Homo sapiens: one gene and its partners. The protein of the gene in region 6 purifies or fractionates together with the protein of the main gene of each other region. This does not show direct contact. Each region holds a gene or a part of one and is shown on either strand. Other genes may lie near its edges. The genes, in order: NCBP3, PRIM2, OXSR1, PLIN3, ARIH1 and BTF3L4.

Region 1 (3,500 bases), on a different chromosome or scaffold from region 6:
TCACTACGTTTAAAGGCAAAGAAAAGTTAACACCTCTACGATAAAAGGAGAAAATGAGTAAGGGTCCTTAGAAGCACAGGTTCGAATCTCAGCTCTGCCACTAACTGGTAACTTTTTCTGGGCCTCCTCAGAAAAGACAATCTCTTATTTCCCAGCTCTAACATCTGAGCCAGCTGACAGCATCTGAACTTTAAACAGGTGACCTCAGAAATGGAGACTTCACAGGTCCCTTCTCACAAGAGTGCTTGGATAAGGAGTGGACACGCAAGGCAAGGCCAGAAGCATGAGGTGATGGCAGGGAAAAGGCACTCTCTGGGGAAATGTGGACAAATTTCCCACAAAACACCCTGTACCTTTCTTCATCATGTCTCGGTCCAAGGCTACATTTCTTTGGGCAAGATTTACTTCCGATCGAAAATGGAAGCGCTTGGCTCGCTGCTCTTTCTTTTCAATTGCTTCCTAGAAAGTACAGAAAAAGTGAAAGTAGTAAAATATGGAGAAGGCGAGTTAAATCACACATGCATCATGATGCATCAGTGACAAACCTGAACTAAAAAAGAAGAAATAAGCAACACTACACCTTGAATCAGTCTGGCAGAGACCTGGATATTCACACTCAATGACTGGGGGGATATGTTAATATCGCTGTAATTTGCAACCATCTCCGACATAACACAGCCTATCACTGTGCCTGGGACATAGTAGGAACTCAGTGAGTATCTGCTGACTGAATGAATAGTCCTTTAAAGTTTATAAAGTTATATGACACTTCATTTGTTATTATCAATTATGCCAACAAATTACAACTAAACAATTTCAACATCCCAATTTTCCAGGTGCAGAAATGGAGGCACAAAAAAGCAAAAAGGTTTGCTGGAGATACTTCAGCTATTAAGCAAGCAGATCTGATTCCAGTGCTATTTCTAGGAGCCCACCTACAACCACTTCACATTGTCTGAGCAATGGTAATCACACCTATCACGCTCTTCCACATTATAACTGCCTGAGCAGTCCACTCCCTAAAGCTAGTCTGTTTAAAAATAACACCGAAGCAAAGAAACTCTCCCTCCTCTTCCAGCCTCGTGTCCACGGAATCACCAGTTTTCATCTCTAAGTGATAAGAACCATTGACACTTTACTGAAAAAATAATCAGCTTTGTAAGTTTCTTCTAAGAGCTAAAATAAACCCAGGTCCAACTGTGGGTTTCTGATGGCTCTTAGGAACCCTTCACTAATTGGTTTTGTTTGTTTTTGTTTTTGAGACGGACTCTCACTCTGTCGCCAGGCTGCCACGATCTCAGCTCACAGCAACCTCCGCCTCCCGGGTTCAAGAGATTCTCCTGCCTTAGCCTCCTGAGTAGCTGGGACTGCAGGTGCACACCACCACGCCCAGCTAATTTTTGTATTTTTAGTAGAGACGGGGTTTCACCATGTTGGCCAGGATGGTCTCGATCTCTTGACCTCGTGATCTGCCTGCCTCGGCCTCCCAAAGTGCCAGGATTACAGATGTGAGCCACCGCGCCCAGTCCCCTTCACTAATTGTATATTGACTTTGCCACACTAATTGAAGGTCTGACTACAGAGAGCTTGTGGGGATTGGTAAAGTTGCAACACTTCTGTTCTTTCCCAATAGTTAACGCTCATTTTCTTCACTGAAGTCTTCCTAGTACAAACAACAATTTACCTTCCTTTAGAAACAAAGTACTAACTCTGAGACTATCACCCTTTTCCCATATACCTGTGTCATATAATGGCAAACAGTGTAAGATTATGAATAGTTTACTTTTTCAATTACAGTAAGAAAAGATTTTCACTTTATTCTCTTTTCTTGTCTAAAAGATGACCAATTCTCTCTCTTTTTTTTTTTTTTTTTTTGCGGGGATGGGGGGCCTTTAAGTGATTGGAAACACAAGAGACACAGATAAACCATAAAAAGGTTAGCTGGGCATGATAGCATCCACCTGTAGTCCCAGCTACTCGGGAGGCTGAGGCAGAGGGATCAATTGAATCCAGGAGGCAGAGGTTGCAGTGAGCCGTGATCGCACCCCTGAACTCCAGCCTGGGTGACAGAGTGAGACTCTGTCTCAAAAAAAAAAAAAAAACACTATAAAAAGGAAGGCACGAAATATATTTTTATTTTTGCTTTTATGTATTCAATACAGCAATATATACTATTATTCAGAAATGTAATACAAAATTCTGTTCCAAACTTAACTGTAAACATTAAAATCAGAAAAAATGTCTAAAACGGAACATCACTGATTAAAGCAACTTACATGTATTGACTACATATAAGGAAAATAATAGGCTTGACTCTATGAGGTGTTACAATGAAGGTGGTAATCTGGTAATAGCAATCATCAGATACAAGGCAATAGTCTTATTAAGGGCCTATTATGCCGACACGGTGGCTTACACCTGGAATCCCAGCACTTCGGGAGGCTGAGGCAGGTGGATCACCTGAAGTCAGGAATTCAAGACCAGCCTGACCAATACAATGAAACCCTGTCTCTACTAAAATTACAAAAATTAGCCAGGCGTGGTGGCGGGCGCCTGTAGTCCTACCTACTCAGGAGGCTGAGGCAGAAGAATCGCTGGAACCCAGGAGGTGGAGGCTGCAGTGAGCCGAGATCGCACCACTGCACTCCAGCCTGGGCAACGGAGCGAGACTCCACCTAAATATGGGGGGCCTACCATCTGCCAGGCACTTTTCATGTTTTGTTTCATTTCAAGTGGAAACAGTACACATTTTTTTAGAAATGGACATACCATTTAAAAAAGCATCCCCCGTCTTGGACATTTTCTTGGAAACGGTTCAACACAGGTATCTAAGTAGAGTGATTTTATCCTTTCATGGCTGTAAGAACACACAAATGCTGCCTGTACCGTTTCAGGATGCATGAAGACATCGTTGTATAACACAAAATTTTTTTTTGTTGCCCCCACTGGAGTGCAGTGGCACGATTTCAGCTCAGTGCAGCCTCAACCTCTCAGGCTCCAGCGATCCTCCCACCTCAGCCTCTTGAGTAGTTGGGACTACAGACCTGTGCTACCACACCCGACTAATTTTTGTATCTTTCGTAGAGACGGGTCTCACTATGTTGCCCAGGCTGGTCTCGAACTCCTGGGCTTAAACGATCCACTTGCTTGGCCTCTCAAAATGCTAGGATTACAGGCATGAGCCAGCGTGCCTGGCCAATAACACAATTTTTTTTAGAAAAAAAATTTAAATCCAGCAACAAAATAAAAGAGGAAATATTTACTGTTATGTCCTAGGGATCAAATTCATTAAGTTCACTTGCTTATCAAGCTGAATAAATAAATCATAGCCTGTCTTACCTTGGAGGTGACATCAATTCCAGTGATGAAGCTGCCAGCCTTGTTTTCATATCTTCTGCTCGTGTCCTAACACAAAGGGGAAGGGTGAGAAATTCAGACAGCAATTGAGGAAAAACCTATAATAAAAGTCGGCCTGACATCTGCAGGTTCTTTTTTCCTTT
Region 2 (3,500 bases), on a different chromosome or scaffold from region 6:
GAGGGGGGAAAAAAAGACTACTTCATCCCACATGCCTTTTTTTTTTTTTTTTTTTAGCAAGAAAAACTTTTTTCAGGAGCCCCCAAAGAACTCATACTTTTTAGCCACAATGACATTGTCACAGGCATAAATTAAAAATTTGGTAAGAAGGAAATGACTATGATCAGATTAATAGTAGCATTAACATGCCAGAAGTTTTCTGAAATGCACGGTGATATTTTTGGTTGTCATGGAGACTGGGGTCCACCACCAGCATTTAATAGATGACAGCTAAAACTATCCAATATGCTGGAAAATATTTGTCTATTTCACACAAAGAAGTGTGGTCTAAAATGTCAACAGAGAGAATATGGGTGAATAAAACTAAGAATAATAAAAGAGCAATGGCCAAACAGTAGACAAGTATCAGTGTCTTCCACAGTGGTGAAAGACACTATTCTTAGCTGTAACTAGAATATAATCTAGGGTAGTGACAGACAAGTAAAGAAAAAATTTAAAAGCATCAACTTTCATGAGGATAAAGAAATAACAGGATTAGGAATGGAGAAAGAATATTAACAGTTACTAAATACCTGTTATGCTAGGTGTTCTCATAAATTCCTTCATTTAATAAACACAGAGTTAGTATTTTAGTCTTCCCAAGTGCTGACATAGCTAAATTATACATATTTAGGTAACCCCAGAGAGTCAATAAAAATTTATTTATATCAGAAAATACTACAATTTTTAACTGAGAAGGAAAGCTTGGCATATGCTTACACTATAATCAGTACAGTTTAAAACAGCCATGTCACAAACCTTTGAAGTCTTCTTCTGCATTAGGTACAAAAAAAGTATTAAAAACTGACTCAGATTAAGAGACAACAACTGTAAAATATGTGTTTTACATATAAAAATGTGTATAGTTTTAAGATATCACCACTTAAGAGTCACACTTCCAACAAACTACTTAAAAATCACTGATCATGTCATTTGTTCAACACAGCTACCTCCAAATTCACCCAGTATGGAGCTACTCATTGCAGCACTAGCATATCACAGTGTTAGTACTTAAGATTTTCTTCTATATTGTCTTCTACTGATACCAAATACTAATTCAGAACAGAAATCTAGGAGTTATATCTACCACAGGCCACACTAATTGTTAAGAGCCATATACGAAGTCTATTTCTAAGGAAAAAAGACATGACCATGAAGAAACCCACAGAGGTTACTCACAAAATTAATCACTCAGCATTGGTATTAGTAGGATCAAGAAAAAAAACTTAAAAACCAACTATGGATAGTAACAAATAAAAACCTAGGAATTTTGGGATTAACAGTACAACATCATATGTAATCTGAATATCATTATGAAAACTGAATTAACTTATTTCCTAGAGAAACACAGAATAAAACTACCAGGGGTATATAACTGAAAGTGTGAACATGTCAGATACAGAAATCAAGTAAAATACTCACTGCCAAAGCCTTGGACAGTTTGGCTCTAAATTCATTCAGGATGATTGCCACAATGTCCTTAAGTGGTACGTAAGCAAAGCCATCTTCCAAATAGACTTTCCTTCCTCGAAACAAATCCAGAGCATCAGCAAAAGGGATCTGAATTAAGAGTAAAACAGGCAAAATAAGTCAGCACCTGTCATTAAGAAATCCTAAGTCTTCATATGTATAAAGTATAAACAAAGAAATTCATTAGTCCTAGCAGAGCCAAAAGAATATCAAAATGATTAATTTATCCTCCTTAAAACTCAACAGCATTAGCAAACAGTGGCAGTACAAAAATATGTTCGTTTCAGAGTTGATGTTTTGAAAAATAGTAACACTAAAAGGCCAAGTTGGAATGCTTACTTTTATTCCTTAACCTCTGAATTTACAAAACATAATCCCCAGGATTTCAAACTCTTAACTCAAGACTTCTACACATGTTGCATTCACCTCACATATCCCACTTTGTATTCTGCATCAGAGAGAATCCTAATTTGTAAACAACATATTCAGAGCTGAAAATTACTTGTAAGTAAATTCCAATTTCTTCATGTATGTTTCCATTCTCACTCCAGAGAAATATACTGAAAAAGCTAATCTCAGTACTAAGAAATGGAAATAATAAGCATTCAGTTTTGCTATTAAAAGAAGTATTTGCCCCAAGAATTTATTTTTAAAAATCTTAGATTTTTAAACCCTATGAACAATCTTAAAATTCTAAGAGATGAGCGAAGTATGATATTAGTAAACTGTAAAAATCATTCTTACTCTCCAATAGAATTTTTCTTTTTTAAAAAACGAGGTTAAAAAATTAGGTGAAAAATGATTCCCAAATTGCCTATTCATTCAAGTTTTAAGGAAGAATTAAATATAAATGCATACAATTTTCTGTATATCCAACGACATCTCACACTATAAACAGATCATGTGCTTTTTAACAACTTTCAATTAATTTACCTATTTCTACAACTGCAACACAGTCCCTGCCCTCATGGGCACACACGGAAAGTCAAACAGACCTACAGGGTAAATTGTGTGATACTGCACCAAATAGGTAGCTTACATAGGACATATCAGATGAGCAGGTAAGAGGGTTTACTGCAATAATATAGGGAAGAAACATGAGTTCTAGTCCAAGCTCTGATACTGACTAGACTTATTTGGTGAATTTAATGAATGCCTCTAAATCTCAGCAGCCAGATCTGTAAAGCTGAGAGAGGGGAGGAAGACACAGGCTAACTGACCCTTAGGGATTCTTTAGCCATAGTATTTCATGATTCTAGCTTATTAAGGTGGTCACAGTGGAAACAAAAATGCCCAAGTAGAAGCAAAAGATGATGTGAAGGCAGAGTAACTGGAAATGTGTGGTGTAAGAGAAATAAATATTGATCACCACACTCTAGGCTTGAAAGGCTGACTGAATGATGGCCCAACAGTCGAAACGAAGAAGCTGGAATGGGGCAGGACTTTAAACTACTGGCACTCACTCATAATAATTAGCACATTCTTTTCAAAGGAAATTGTGGGGTTGCAGTTATCAAATTGTAAAATGAATTTAAACTCTTCCCTCTTCCCCTTCTGGAAGGGTTCATGTGACGTAGTTATCTGAACTGAGTGGGGAGGGGAAACTGAGGTGGCCAAGCACAGGATGATGGAATCTGAGTAGGTTAAGGAGGGCATTCCCATAGGAAAAAACGTAGGCTTACAATGTCAGAGCCCAGTGGAATCACAGAGAGACCATGAGGCAAGACACCACGATGTCAGAGGTCAAGAGAAGCGAAAGGGGGCTTCCACGCAAGGCAGCAATCCAAACAGAGTGTTGGGCCAAATGGGTGATGAGGGTTTCCTGGCAGGGGATAGCCCAGTGCAGGGTGTAAGAACCCAAACAATGCAAGGAGGGTATTCCATTAGGAAAACAGCCTGTAATGGGAGGTCAGAGCCCAAGCAGGGTTGGGAATGCGTCCGTGGAAGGAGACAGCCCAGGAGAGAACATTGGCACACCATTAGTGCAATGA
Region 3 (3,500 bases), on a different chromosome or scaffold from region 6:
TCACAAGTTTATAGTATATTGAAAATTCTTGCAGGTTTTAATGCTGACACTGCAGAACGATCCTCCTTCTTTGGAAACTGGTGTTCAAGATAAAGAAATGCTGAAAAAATATGGAAAATCATTTAGAAAAATGATTTCATTGTGCCTTCAAAAAGATCCAGAAAAAAGGTAAAATATGAGAAAAAGTCTACTTTTCTCTCTAATAAAACATTGTGAGAAGTCTAAGAATCACATACTCATATGTACAGGAAATTATTTTCAAAAGAACTAAATATAAACTTTAAAAAAGTATACAGAGACCATTATACTGGATTGGAAATGAATTGATTTCTGCCTTCTTTGTAGTATACAGTGTACCCTAAATAGTTCAGCTTTTTCCTTGTTAATTTCTTACAAAGTTGTACATTGTGAATTCTGTATTAATAAATGCCAAGTTAGTGGAGAGATTTGTTTTTAATTTGCATTTAAAATTTATAAATGAATGTCTTAATGCCATTTACAGTATTAATAAAGGAAAGACACATAGAAAATTTATATTTAGTGTAATAATCATACTTATTTCCATGTTAGAAAGATATTTTAGTAAGTGGACCAAAAATTCAAATAGCTTCCTTATCAATGTTAGACAGATTGAATGACAAGTGAGCAAATAAATAAGAACATCCGATATGTGTAACTTCATGAATTAAGCAGAATCGTAGAATGTTGGGGATCATTGAGTACAACCTTTTATTTTTGAGGTCACTTGATACTTAGTCATAGGAGTAGGACTTGAATCTCAAAGTCCTGATTCCTAACTTAGGGCTCTGTTCCTTCTGAATCTTATCTGTCTGTTTCACATATATATTCCACTCAGCTTCTTAGCACTGAGTTCTTTAATTTTTGTTTCTCTAAAGATCATTAAAAGGGAAAGACTTTGATGTTCTTGATCACATCTCTAGTGTATGTAATAGGGTTTCAGAATTTATTGTTGGAAATATTGGAAAGGGTAAGAAAAACAGGTAGCAAAATTTATACCTGTGTTTTTATAATTTTTTTTTTTCTGTTTCTGAGTAAACAGTTAAAAAAGACAGGAAACACTTTTCTTTTATCAAATTAGTTGGTTAAAGGAACAAAATTATCCTGTTACAAATACCTAGAAATGCCAGATAAAATCTATCCAACTTAAAGATTCTCAGATGCCAGAAATAATGAGGAAGCCCTAAGTTAAAGAAGAAATATTGTGAACTAATCCCATGGCTGTTTTCAGTGGGTCACTATTCATTCTGGTAACCTACTGATTTGGATTTATAACTCCCATGTGAAAACTGGAAGTGAGATCTTGGGTCCACCCAGTGGGGAGTTTGAACTGAGATTCTTCTTAAAGCTAAGAACTTCAGATGTCAGTATCCTTAGTAAAAGGATAGACAAGAATAAAAATTGTCATCACCAAGAGACAACAAAAACCTCTCCTGAATAATCAAGCCCTTCAACCTGGACATTCCACAGGTTTAGAGTCTATACTCCCTATGTTATCCAGGAACCCACAGGATTAGAAAGTTAAAAAAGCTTTACCAAATCAGTTTTTATTTTTGACGGAAGTAGTCACAGAGCTGCACTGGAAGAACACTTTCAAACTCTAGCTCCCATTGGATTCCTGAACATAATGCCCCACTGTAATAAGGTCACAATCCAAAATTAAGAAACACACAGTGAAACAATGCATTATGAACTAGTTAGCAGACACAAGCAGAAGGATTAGTGCTCCAGAAGATTTAGGTAATGCAGTGAAAATCTGAAAAGATACAAAATTAAGTATATTGAAAATAATTAAAATTAGAAGAAATCAGACCCACAAGAGAAGACTGTGACTATGACAGAAGAACCAAATAGCAATGCCAGAAATGAAAAATACAGTGATTAATGTTTAAAACTTTCCATGAGTGTGAGCTGGACTTGTTGACTCACTTCTGATGAGTAGAGTATGAAAAAGGAAAAATAGCAACTTTACAATGCACCTCCTCTACCCAATGACCAAGGTTAACATCACTATTAATAATACATTGATAAGACTGATATGTGCCTCTTGATATGGTGCAATGAGAAGGGCATATATATAACCTGTGAGGTATTCTTCCTCCAAATCCGTAACTTCGGTCTATAATGAGAAAACATCAGACAAACCCAAATCGAGGAATATGCAGCAAGATACCTGACCAGCACTCTTCAAAACTGTCAAGGAAGAGAGACTAAGAAACTGTCACAGATTGGAGGAAATTAAGAAGACGTGAAGACGGAAAGCAAGAGTATCCTATACTAGATCCTGGGACAGAAAAAGGACATTAGTGGAAAAACTGGAGAAATGGAATGAAGTCTGTAGTTTAGTTAATAGTATTGTACCAGTGTTGATATTTTAGTTGATTTCTTTATTATTATACTGTGGTTATGTAAAAGGTTCACAATAGCAGAAGGTGGTGAATGGCATGTAGGAACTCTGTACTAGCTTTGCAGCTCTTCTGTAAGTCTAAAATTATTATAAAACTTTAAGAAAACTGGAAGCTATAGAAAATCTATTCCAGTTTGTAAACCAAAATTAAACTTTGTTTAGAACATTGCTAAGTTAAAATAACACGCACAATGGACTGGTTAAACAGAACAACCAATAAAACAAAAAAGAGATTATTTACTCATCAAGTACCAGGCACTGTGGTAAACACTTAACATATATTGTTTAATTCTCACAGTAATCCTTTGAGGATAGCACTGTTATTTTCTTTATTTTACAAATGAAGAAACTGAATCACAGAGAGGTTAAGTAACCTTCTCCAAAGTCACACAGCTAATAAATGGTGGAATCAGAATTCTGACCCATGCAATTGGACTAGAGTTAACCTGTTTTAATCAGACTACACTATACTGAGGAAATTGCTCAGAATGTGGCACAGAAAGATCAAAGAGGGAATATGAAAGAAATATTAACATTTGGAGGGTAGACTGAGAAGGTTCAGTATGTTTGTGTGTATGCACATCCACACACACACACACACACACACACACACACACACACACACAAATGTACGTATACATATACATGAACTTACCAGGAAAGACTAGAGAGAGTATAGGAGAAGCGATATTCAAAGAAATAATGGCTGAGAATTTTCGAGAGTTGATGAAAGACCTATATTCTCAGAGTAAAGAACCATCCCCCCAGAATTCCAAGCAGTGTCCCCCTTCTTCCACTTGTACAAGTTGCTGTGAAACTACTGGACACGAAGCAAAGACAAACTCCTACAGGCAACCTCGGGGAACAGATTACCTACTGAGGATTAGCAGGTAGACTTGACAGCTACTTCCCCAATAACACAACAGTTGAGGCCAGCGTTTAGTGAAATGCTCAGAGAAAATGCAGTCATGTGTCACTTAAAATGATGAGGATACATTCTGTAATATGTGTATTAGGCAGTTTTGTCATTGTTTGAACATCGTGGAGTGTACTTACACAAACTTTGATGGTACAG
Region 4 (3,500 bases), on a different chromosome or scaffold from region 6:
TGGCAATGCTGACCTGGGGTTAACACCTGAAGGCCCAGAACAGCACATGGCTTGTAGCAAATGTTGGCTCTTAACATTAAAAAAAAAAATTTTTTTTTTGAGACAGGTTCTCACTCTGTCACCCAGGGTGGGGTGCAGTAGTGTGATCATGGCTCAACTGCAGCCTTGAACTCCTGGGCTCAAGTGATCCTCCCATCTCAGCTTCCCAAGTAGCTGGGACCACAGGCATGCACCACCATGCCTGGCTATTTTTAATTTTTTGTAGAGACGAGTTTTCACCATGTTGCCCAGGCTGTTCTCAGACTCCTGGGCTCAACAGATCCTCCTGCCTCAGCCTCCTGAGTAGCTGGGACTAGGTGCATCCACCACGCCTGGCTAATTTTTGTACTTTTTGTCAAGACGGAGTCTCGCCATATTGCCCAGGCCGGTCTCCAACTCTTGGGCTCAAGCAATCCTCCTGCCTCAGCCCCACAAAGTGCTAGAATTATAGGAGTGTGCCACTGTGCCCTACCTCAGTTTCCCTTAATCACCGCTTTTTAAAGACCCTGTCTCTAAATACAGCCACATTCTTACCCCTGGGGATCAGGACTTCAACATAAGAATTTGGGGTTGAGGGGGCCATAATTCAACCTATAACAGCCTGGGATGAAAAAATGAGGCACAGACCAGGCGTGGTGGCTCACGCCTTACTCCCAGCACTTTGGGAGGCCGAAGCGTGCAGATCACTTGAGATCAGGAGTACGAGACCAGCCTGGCCAACATGGTGAAACCCTGTGTCTACTAAAAATTCAAAAATCAGCCAGGCGTGATGGTGAGTTCCTATAATCTCAGCTACTCGGGAGGCTGAGGCACGAGTATCACTTGAACCTGGGAGGCAAGAGGTTGCAGTGAGCCGAGATCGTGCCACCACGCTCCAGCCTGGGCAACAGAGCAAGGCTCTGTCTCAAAAAAAAAAAAAAAAACACCCTCCTTCAGATAAGTGTGAGGCTTAATCGGTTATTGTTTGTCTCCCCAGCTGGGACCAGGGCACAGGCTGCCTGCTTTGTGGCTGTGTCCAGTGCCCAGCAGGCAGCCTGGCACAGGGTAGATGCTTATTTTTTTAGTTTTTTGAGACAGAGTGTTGCTCTTGTTGCCCAGGCTGGAGTGCAATGGTGCGATCTCGGCTCACTGCAACCTCCGCCTCTCGGGCTCAAGCGATTCTCCTGCCTCAGCCTCCCGAGTAGCTGGGATTACAGGCATGCACCACCATGCCTGGGTAATTTTATCTTTTTAGTAGAGATGGGGTTTCTCCATGTTGGTCAGGCTGGTCTCGAACTCCCAACCTCAGGTGATCTGCCTGCCTCGGCCTCCCAAAGTGCTGGGATTACAGGTGTGAGCCACCGCGCCCTGCAGATAGATGCTTATTAAGTATTCAGGTGCTCCATGTCCGCTTCAGCCCAGTGGTTACAGAAGGGCCACCCTCGGGTACCACCTGCTTGTGTCTGGGTCTGTAGCATCAGAAATAGGTGATCCCTGGGTTGGAGGCAGGACAAGCCAGCCGCATCCCAGCATCCTTGGACTTTCCCTGAGACCACCTGCAGGGACAGGCAGCTTATTCATCCACTTGCTATTGAGTGCCTACTGTATGCCGGGGAGCTGTGCTGTCCCATCATGGTTAGACTTCCTCACCTCCCATTTATGCAGAAATGGCCTTAGCTGGGAAACAGCAGAGCGGTTGTCAACTTGCATTTTTTTTTTTTTTTTGAGACAAGGTCTTGCTCTGTAGCCCAAGCTAGAGTGCAGTGGCGTGATCTTGGCTCACTACAGCCTTGACCTCCTAGACTTAGGCAATCCTCCCAGCTCTCAGCCTCCTGAGAAGCTGGGACTACAGGTGTGCACCACCACACCTGACTAATTTTTTAATTTTTTGTAGGAATGGGGTCTTGCTATATTGCCCAGGCTGGTCTCAAACTCCCAGGCTAGCCAGGCACGGTGGCTCACGCCTGTAATCCCAGCACTTTGGGAGGCCGAGGCGGGCGGATCACGAGATCAGAACAACAGAGCGAGACTCCATCTCAGAAACAAAACAAAAAACAAACTCCTGGGCTCAAGCAATCCTCCTGCCTGCCTTGGCTTCCCAAAGTGCTGGGATTATAGTTGTGAGCCACTATGCCCAGCCATGCCTACACCTTATCAGCAAAGGCCAATAGTGGGCTTGGCTGAGGGGGGATGGAAACTGCTGAGCTTACAGGAAGATGGGAAACGTCAACCAGGAGCCCCCGTCTCAGGGCCAAGCCCTTGCTTCCCTTTCTCTCCCACTGATAGCGTAGGAGGCCAACAGTCTTTCTGTTTATAGAAGGGATAAGCTCAGGGTGAATTCTTCAAGGTCACTGAACAGAGCAGCAGCTGGGAGCTTTTTTTTTTTTTTTTTTTTTTTTTCAGATGGAGTCTCGTTCTGTTGCCCAGGCTGGAATGCAGTGGCGTGATCTCAGCCCACTGCAACCTCTGCCTCCTGGGTTCAAGTGATCCTCCTGCCTCAGCCTCCCAAGTAGCTGGGATTATAGGCGCCCATCACTACGCCCAGCAAATTTTTGTATTTTTAGTAGAGATGGGGTTTCACCATGTTGGCCAGGCTGGTCTCGAACTCCTGACCTCAGGTGATCCAGCTGCCTTGGCCTCCCAAAGTGCTGGGATTATAGGCGTGAGTCACCGTGCCCGGCCAATTTTTGTATTTTTTGTAGAGGTGAGGTCTTACTATGTTGCCCAGGCTGTTCTCACACTTCTGGGCCCAAGCGATCCTCCCACCTCAGCCTCCCAAAGTGCCGGGATGACAGGTGTGAGCCACCGTGCCTGGCCTGCTGTGAGCTCTTGACTTTTTGAGAGGTGCAATGCTCTCTCAATTCTGGGCCCTATGAGTTTTTTCCCCCTTTGTGAAGAGGTAACTTTCCCCAGGTTCTGGGGGACGGTGGTGTTGTCAGAGCTAGATTTTAATCCGGGCCAGTGTGAGAACGTGCGTGTTCACTGAGTAGTGGGGCTGTTAGAACCTGACTCTCATCGGGGGCGTTGGCTCATGCTGGCTCACACAGTGAAACCCCGTCTCTACTAAAAATACAAAAAATTAGCCGGCCGTGGCAGTGCACGCCTGTAGTCCCAGCTGCTGGGGAGGCTGAGGCAGGAGAACCGCTTGAACCTGGGAGGTGGAGGTTGCGGTGAGCCGAGATAGTGCCACTGCACTCCAGCCTGGGTGACAAGAGCAAAAACTCTGTAAAAAAAAACAAAAACAAAAACAAAAAACTTGACTCTCACACCCTCTTCCCCCACAAAAAGATGAACTCTCATGAGTACAAGAGGACTGAGTCTTCAGGGAAGCACCAACTTGGGTAGGAATGGGGCAGGTGTGGTTTTCAACTTTGCGGAGAGCCCTCTGCATAGAGATCTGTCTAAAGACTTAGCTTCAGCTGGACACAGTGGCTCATGTCGGTCATCCCAGCACTTTGGGAGGCCAAAGCAGGAGGACTGCT
Region 5 (3,500 bases), on a different chromosome or scaffold from region 6:
TTTCAGAGGTAGAGTCTCGTTCTCTCCCCAAGGCTGGAGTGCAGTGGTGCAACTCGGCAATTCTCCTGCCTCAGCCTCCCAAGTAGATGGGATTACAGGCACATGCCACCACGCCCAGCTAATTTTTTGTATTTTAGTAGATACAGGGTTTCACTGTGTTGCCCAGGCTGGCTCAAACTCCTGAGCTCAGGCAATCCACCCGCCTCAGCCTCCCAAAGTGCTAGGATTACAGGCATGAGCCACCACACCCAGCCTATCTTAAATTTTCTTTTATAGTTGGTTCAAATTGGGATCCACATAGGTCCACAAATTGGATTTAATTGATATCTCTTGAGTCTCCTCTACCTGTTGTTCCTTCTCTTCCCCCCTCCTTGCTTTTTTTTCTTTGTTGAAGAAACTAGATCGTGTTGTCCTGTAGAGTTTCCCACATTATGGATTTTGCTGGTTGCAACTGCATGGTGTCATTTAATAGGTTCTTCTATCCCTGCATTTTCTGCACTGGTGATTAATTCAAGAAACTTGATCAAATTCAGATTCAGTGGTTGGGGGGGGAGCCCAGAATACTTAATTGATTATACTTTCTATTGTATTATATCAGGAGTTACATGGTATGTAGTTGCCACTGTAGTTTTCTACTTAAAAATATCTCTGCTTTTTGCTTGTTTTACATCTTGTGGCATACTGTAGAACAGTGCCATCCAGTAGAACATTTTTGTAATGATGTAAATGTTCTTTATCACCAGTGTCTAATTTGGTAGTCACTAAGCACATGTGACTATTGAGCGATGAGGAACTGAATTTTTAGTTTCTTAAATTGAATTTTAAGTAGTCAGGTGTGGCTTGTGGCTACTGTATTGGAAAGTACAATTAATAGGACATTTTTCAAGAGTATTAAATAACAAAAGTAGCAGTAGATGTCTATTCCTGATTTTAGCCTAGATCACAGTACTGTTTCATCAGTAAATCAGCTTTTTAAATTATTAATATTTTTAATGGACAAATCATAATTATACACATTTATGGAGTACAGTGGAATGTTTTGAAATATGTAAACAATGCAATGATTAAATCAAACTAATTGTTGTATTGCCTTGCCTTAACATTTTTATGGTGAGACATTTGAAATGATACTTATTTTGAAATATATATTATTATTGACTATATTCACCCTGTTGTGCAATAAATCTCAAAACTTACTCATCCAGTCTATCTGAAACTTTGTACTCTTTGGTCACCAACTCCCCATTCCCTCCCTTCCTACCCCTCTATCCCCGCAAGCCTCTGGTAACCGTCATTATACTCTGTATGTCTGTGAGTTCAACTTTTTTAGTTTCTACATATAAGCGAGATCATGTAGTATTTCTTTTCTGTGCCTGGCTTATTTCACTTAGTGTAATGTCCTCCAGGTTCATCCATGTTGTCACAACAGAATTCCTTTTTTGAGGCTGAGTACTCGTGTGTGTGTGTACATACATGACGTTTTCTTTCTGTGTTCATCCATTGATGGACACTTTACATGGATTCCATGTCTTGGCTATTGTGAATAATGCTGTAGTGAATGTGAGAGTACAGAGATACCTTTGACATACTGATTTCAATTCCTTTTCATATATACACAGTAGTGGGATTGCTGGATTCTGTGGTGGTTTTGTTTTCAGTTTTTTAAGGAACCTCCCCATACCATTTTCCATAATGGCTATACTAATTTACATTCCCATCAACAGTGTATCAAGAGTCTCCTTCTTTCTTTATCTTTGCCAAGACTTATCTTTCATCTTTTTGATAAAAACCATTCTAACAGGTGTGAAGTGAGACTTCATTATGGTTTTAATTTGATAATCAGCTTTTATGTACAGTTTATGTGTTATAATTATATCACCCAATTTTTCTTAATGGGACAGCGATCTAGGGCAGCCCTGCAGAGGTACCTGTTCTACTGTAATCGCTATATGAACCACATGCAGAGCCTGCGCTTTGAGCACAAACTATATGCTCAGGTGAAACAGAAAATGGAGGAGATGCAGCAGCACAACATGTCCTGGATTGAGGTGCAGTTCCTGAAGAAGGCAGTTGATGTCCTCTGCCAGTGTCGTGCCACACTCATGTACACTTATGTCTTCGCTTTCTACCTCAAAAAGAATAACCAGTCCATTATCTTTGAGGTAGGAGTAGTTCTGGGTGAGGAAAAAGCCCACCTTGTATCATAGGTCTACCTGATCTTTCATATATAAGATACAGAGTTTTCAGGGTTCTTGTTTGTTCAGAACATGTAGGTAGACGAATGTATTTATTACAAAGATACAAGAAATTTCTATTTCTTGTCCTAAATTATATTCAGATCGATGTGGTTTAGCCAGCTAGTGATTAGGTATGCAGGTTCTGGAGTCAGCCCTAGATTTTAATCTTTACTTCATTATGTTTTAGCTCTGTTGATTTGGAGCAAATTCCTTAACCTCTTATTTGTCCATTTTAAAGTGAGGATAGTACCTTTCTAGGTTGTTATGAGGTTTAAGTGAGACAATTTGTGTTTTATGTGAGACAATTTGTGTTAATTGCTATACGGCACCTGGAACATCATAAGTTCTCAATAAAAGCCTTTATTCAGGCTAAACTAACCCTGCAATATTAGAAGTTAATGTGGTGGTTATCTTTAGTGGAGAAATAATGACTAAAAAGCCAGCTTTTAGCAGTAAAGGTTTTCTCAAGTAAAGATGTTCATTTAAAATTGATGCATAAAACATTGATATCTGTATATGACTAGACAATAAGACTGACTAGCAGATGGGACTTCAGTTGGGTAACAGGTACAAAACTAGCCATAGTGGTAAAGGATGATACAATTTGAATCTTCCATACAGTGTTTTCTTATAAGAAATAAGTATAGCCAGATGTAAGCAATAATAGGTTTCTATTTTTTCTCATTTACCTTTGAGTTTTCAGCAAAGAGCAGCTCTCAGAACGAGAAGATTCCAAAAGACATTTTAAATCCTTTCAAATGGTCTTCAGTATTCTTCCAAAAGTAATGGGTGAAATCTTTCGTTCTTTTAACATTTAAAAAATTGTTCTGGAAAAGAACAAACAAGTTATTAGAGATGAAAGCCCATAGAGCTTTACAGGTGCAGTTAAACCACCTATGAAAGTTACAGAATGAGTGTTGAGAGCAGTCTGTAGTCAACAAAACAGTGAAAATGGTTTATCTTTTAGCTTTATTTTGAAGCCAAAATTTACTTTCATTCTTCTTACAGAATAACCAAGCAGATCTAGAGAATGCCACAGAGGTGCTCTCGGGCTACCTTGAACGAGATATTTCCCAAGATTCTCTGCAGGATATAAAGCAGAAAGTACAAGACAAGTACAGGTAATTTTTTTTTAAGCTGTTGAATAAAACTTTCTGCCAGTGATGATCCTTACTGGTAAAGTTCAGTGATAGTGAAACTGGGTTTAGCATATCCAGCAACTGAGCTTTTGCCATGTTTCTCACAGATTGCTTCTGTCCGTTG
Region 6 (3,500 bases):
AGATTGCCTGAGGTCAGGAGTTCGAGACCAGCCTGACCGACATGGTGAAACCTCGTCTGTACTAAAAATACAAAAATTAGCCAGGCATGGTAGCAGGCGCCTATAATCCCAGCTACTCGGGAGGCTGAGGCAGGAGAATTGCTTGAACCCGGGAGGCAGAGGTTGCAGTGAGCTGAGATCATGCCATTGCACTCTAGCCTGGGCAACAAGAGGGAAACTCCGTCTCAAAAAAAAAAAAAAAGAATATTCGGAAACATTTTGGTAGTAATAATAGTAAGTTGAGAAGTAATTACCTAAAAGGGTAGTGCCCAGATCTTCAGGCCATAATTTTATTTTATTTTATTTCATTTTATTTATTTTTGAGACATAAAGTCTTGCTCTGTCTCCCAGGCTGAAGTGCAGTGGTGCGATCTCAGGTCACAACAACCTCCACCTTGTGGATTCAAGCAATTTTCATGCCTCAGCCTCCCGAGTAGCAGGGACTACAGGTGGTGTGCACCACTGCACCCAGTTAATTTTTGTATTTTTAGTATACACAGGGTTTCGCCATGGTGGCCAGGCTGGTCTTGAGCTCCTGGCCTCAAGTGATCCACCTACCTACCGCCTCCCAATGTGCTAGGATTACAGGCGTGAGCTACCATGCTTGGCCCATCATTTTAAATAGTTAATTTGATATTCACTGCTAATTAATGACAATCAGAAAATACTGTTATATGGCTGGGCGCAGTGGCTCACTCCTGTAATACCAGCACTTTGTGATGCTGAGGAGGGAGTATTTCTTGAGGCCAGGAGCTCAAGACCAGCCTGGGCAACATGGTGAGACCCTATCTGTACAAAAAATACAAAAATTAGCCAGGTGTGATAGCACGTGCCTGTAGTCATAGCTACTCAGGAGGCTGATGCAGGAGGATCACTTGAGCCCAGGACTTCAAGTCTGCAGTGAGCTATGGAAAGCCACTGTACTTCAACCTGGGTGACAGAGGGGGGAGACCCTGTCTCTAAAAAAAAAAAAAGAAAAAAGAAAATAATGTTGTCAGACATCTATGTTTTTGTTAAATATTGATTGCCCTATAAATGTGGCAACCGTAAGTTCTGAATTTCCAAGATAGTCCTGGTTTCAAATGTGTCATGTTGCCCCTAAAAATGAAAAAATCTAGTATTGTAGTGCCCATACTACCTAGCTAGATACTTTCTTACACCAAAAGAAATGAAAAAAATCTTTTTTTTTTTTTTTTTTTTTTTTTGAGACAGAGTCTTGCTCTGTTGCCCAGGCTGGAGTGCAGTGGCATGATCTTGGCTCACTGCAACCTCCACCTGCCGGGTACAAGCAATTATCTGCCTCAGCCTCCCAAGTTAGCTGGGATTACAGGCGCCCGCCACTGCGCCTGGCTAATTTTTATATTTTTAGTAGAGACAGGGTTTCACCGTCTTGGCCCGGCTGGTCTTAAACTCCTGACCTCGTGATCCACCTGCCTCAGCCTCCCAAAGTGCTGGGATTACAAGCATGAGCCACTGTGCCCAGCTTTGTTGTTGTTGTTGTTGTTGTTGTTGCTTGGTTTTTTTTGTTTGTTTGTTTTTTTGTTTTGTTTTTTTTTTGAGACAGAGTCTGACTCTGTCGCCCAGGATGGAGTGCAGTGGATTACAGGTGTGAACCACCATACCTGGCTGAAAAAAACCTTAATATTAATTTTTTATTTGGAGAATATGGCCACTGTAAAGTCTTTTTACTCAGTGATCAGTTATTCCACTTTGCATATAAATTTTATCTTTGTAGGCCGTGTGTGGTGGCTTATGTCGGTAATCCCAGCACTTTGGGAGGCCAAGGCAGGTGGATCCCTTGAGGTCAGGAGTTCGAGACCAGCCTGGCCAACATGGTGAAACCCCATCTCTACTAAAAATACAAAAATTAGCTGGGTATGGTGGTGTTTGCCTGTAATCTCAGCTACTTGGGAGGCAGGGAGAATTGCTTGAACTTGGGAGGTGGAGACTGTAGTGAGCCAAGATCGCATCACTACACTCCAGCCTGGTCAACAGAGTGAGACCCTGTCTCAAAAAATGAATAAATAAAAATAAATAAAATAAATTTCATCTTTGTCACACATGGAAATTGCCAGCTGTGTTATCAGTGTATTAACTGATTAAAGTTTTATTTTTAATGTTACTCAAGCAAAAAATATGAATGGCATTTTAGATTGACAATATTTAGCTATTTCTGAGCAACTCTGTGTGATTTATACAGGAAAAAAGGGATAAACATTATAAGTTTTCTTTAAGGTCTTTGTTCTCAATGACTAATATTAAAATAAACTTTTTGTAGTCTTGGACAGTAAAGCACCAAAACCAGAAGACATTGATGAGGAAGATGATGATGTTCCAGGTAAGTGACATTTCCTTAGACTTAAGATTTTAAGCATCCTGTTTATCTCCTTTCAGTCATTGCATAGATAACTTTTAGGTTTGTGTTGATTGTAAGCTCATGAATTTAAATTGATTCACAATAATGTGGATAGGATCTAATGAAAAACAACGTAAGCACCCACCTTAGAACCTAGAATCAGAAATTGTCACACAAAGCTCTGCTGCCTGGATTTATTAAATTGAAATCACTGTGATTATAAATTTGCATAGCTATTGTTATAACATTTCTGTATGAATTATAATTGACATATGAAAATGCTATTCACCTCAGTAATTTGCATAGACAAAAGATGAACATTTCCTTAGGATTACTGTCCTAAGCAAATAATTAAATCATTGTTAGTAAAATGCCACCAGTTCATTTCTGCCTCCTTATGTTTTCAGGCTAATTCTGGTTGTACTAATTTTATTTTTTCGGGGGTTAGAAGTTAGGAGTTCCATTTACCTCTTTTTCCTTTTTTGTATTCTTTGATTCATATACTTTGTTTTTCTTTTTCAGATCTTGTAGAAAATTTTGATGAGGCATCAAAGAATGAAGCTAACTAAAAGTTTGGTTTTTGGAAGCTGGCATGGACTAGATTTAACAAATCAGCTATGTGGTTCCAAAGTTTTACAGACATGGAGAACATCACCTGTTACTAGTTCAGTAATATAAATATTTTGTATATTAATAATGCTGTTTGTTCAGCATTTTTCGGTCATTTGATTTTGCATTTTGCACTTCCTCCCAGGATATTTTTTTGGTCAAAATATGAAGTATTGGTGCAGTTTGAGGGTGTTTTGGTTTTTGATTCCTGGTTTTTTTGTTTTTTGTTTGGGGTATTTTTGGTGTATGTATGTTTATGTATGTGTGTGGGTATGTGTGTATACAGTGGAGAGCAAATTGGAAAACAGTTCTATTTATCCTCCTCCCTCCCCAGTAGAAATAAAAAAAATCTTTACATTTGTTACTTTTCTTTTCCCCCCGTAAGACACAGAATTAATGGAAAGTGAGTATCTTGGATTTCAAATCTGAAGAGATTTTTACCATTAGTGGTTTGATTTTAATTTGCTTGGTTAACTATCATATTTTTCATACACTT

What was found.
Region 1: the proteins of BTF3L4 (region 6) and NCBP3 purify together in Homo sapiens (pull-down; one large-scale study listed by IntAct). This does not show direct contact.
Region 2: the proteins of BTF3L4 (region 6) and PRIM2 purify together in Homo sapiens (co-immunoprecipitation; 2 studies listed by BioGRID and IntAct, with this or other methods). This does not show direct contact.
Region 3: the proteins of BTF3L4 (region 6) and OXSR1 fractionate together in Homo sapiens (co-fractionation; one large-scale study listed by BioGRID). This does not show direct contact.
Region 4: the proteins of BTF3L4 (region 6) and PLIN3 fractionate together in Homo sapiens (co-fractionation; one large-scale study listed by BioGRID). This does not show direct contact.
Region 5: the proteins of BTF3L4 (region 6) and ARIH1 fractionate together in Homo sapiens (co-fractionation; one large-scale study listed by BioGRID). This does not show direct contact.

What each region holds. Positions count from the first base shown.
Region 1 is NC_000017.11:3,839,747-3,843,246, forward strand, and holds part of NCBP3 (nuclear cap-binding protein subunit 3), read right to left. Parts: intron 3,406-3,500; coding exon 3,340-3,405; intron 460-3,339; coding exon 354-459; intron 1-353. UniProt on the Homo sapiens protein: Associates with NCBP1/CBP80 to form an alternative cap-binding complex (CBC) which plays a key role in mRNA export. NCBP3 serves as adapter protein linking the capped RNAs (m7GpppG-capped RNA) to NCBP1/CBP80.
Region 2 is NC_000006.12:57,380,130-57,383,629, reverse strand, and holds part of PRIM2 (DNA primase large subunit), read right to left. Parts: intron 1,600-3,500; coding exon 1,462-1,599; intron 1-1,461. UniProt on the Homo sapiens protein: Regulatory subunit of the DNA primase complex and component of the DNA polymerase alpha complex (also known as the alpha DNA polymerase-primase complex) which play an essential role in the initiation of DNA synthesis.
Region 3 is NC_000003.12:38,224,537-38,228,036, forward strand, and holds part of OXSR1 (serine/threonine-protein kinase OSR1), read left to right. Parts: intron 1-34; coding exon 35-168; intron 169-3,500. UniProt on the Homo sapiens protein: Effector serine/threonine-protein kinase component of the WNK-SPAK/OSR1 kinase cascade, which is involved in various processes, such as ion transport, response to hypertonic stress and blood pressure.
Region 4 is NC_000019.10:4,854,168-4,857,667, reverse strand, and holds part of PLIN3 (perilipin-3), read left to right. Parts: intron 1-3,500. UniProt on the Homo sapiens protein: Structural component of lipid droplets, which is required for the formation and maintenance of lipid storage droplets. Required for the transport of mannose 6-phosphate receptors (MPR) from endosomes to the trans-Golgi network.
Region 5 is NC_000015.10:72,578,830-72,582,329, forward strand, and holds part of ARIH1 (E3 ubiquitin-protein ligase ARIH1), read left to right. Parts: intron 1-1,901; coding exon 1,902-2,162; intron 2,163-3,245; coding exon 3,246-3,358; intron 3,359-3,500. UniProt on the Homo sapiens protein: E3 ubiquitin-protein ligase, which catalyzes ubiquitination of target proteins together with ubiquitin-conjugating enzyme E2 UBE2L3.
Region 6 is NC_000001.11:52,083,795-52,087,294, forward strand, and holds part of BTF3L4 (transcription factor BTF3 homolog 4), read left to right. Parts: intron 1-2,317; coding exon 2,318-2,377; intron 2,378-2,917; coding exon 2,918-2,964; 3' UTR 2,965-3,500.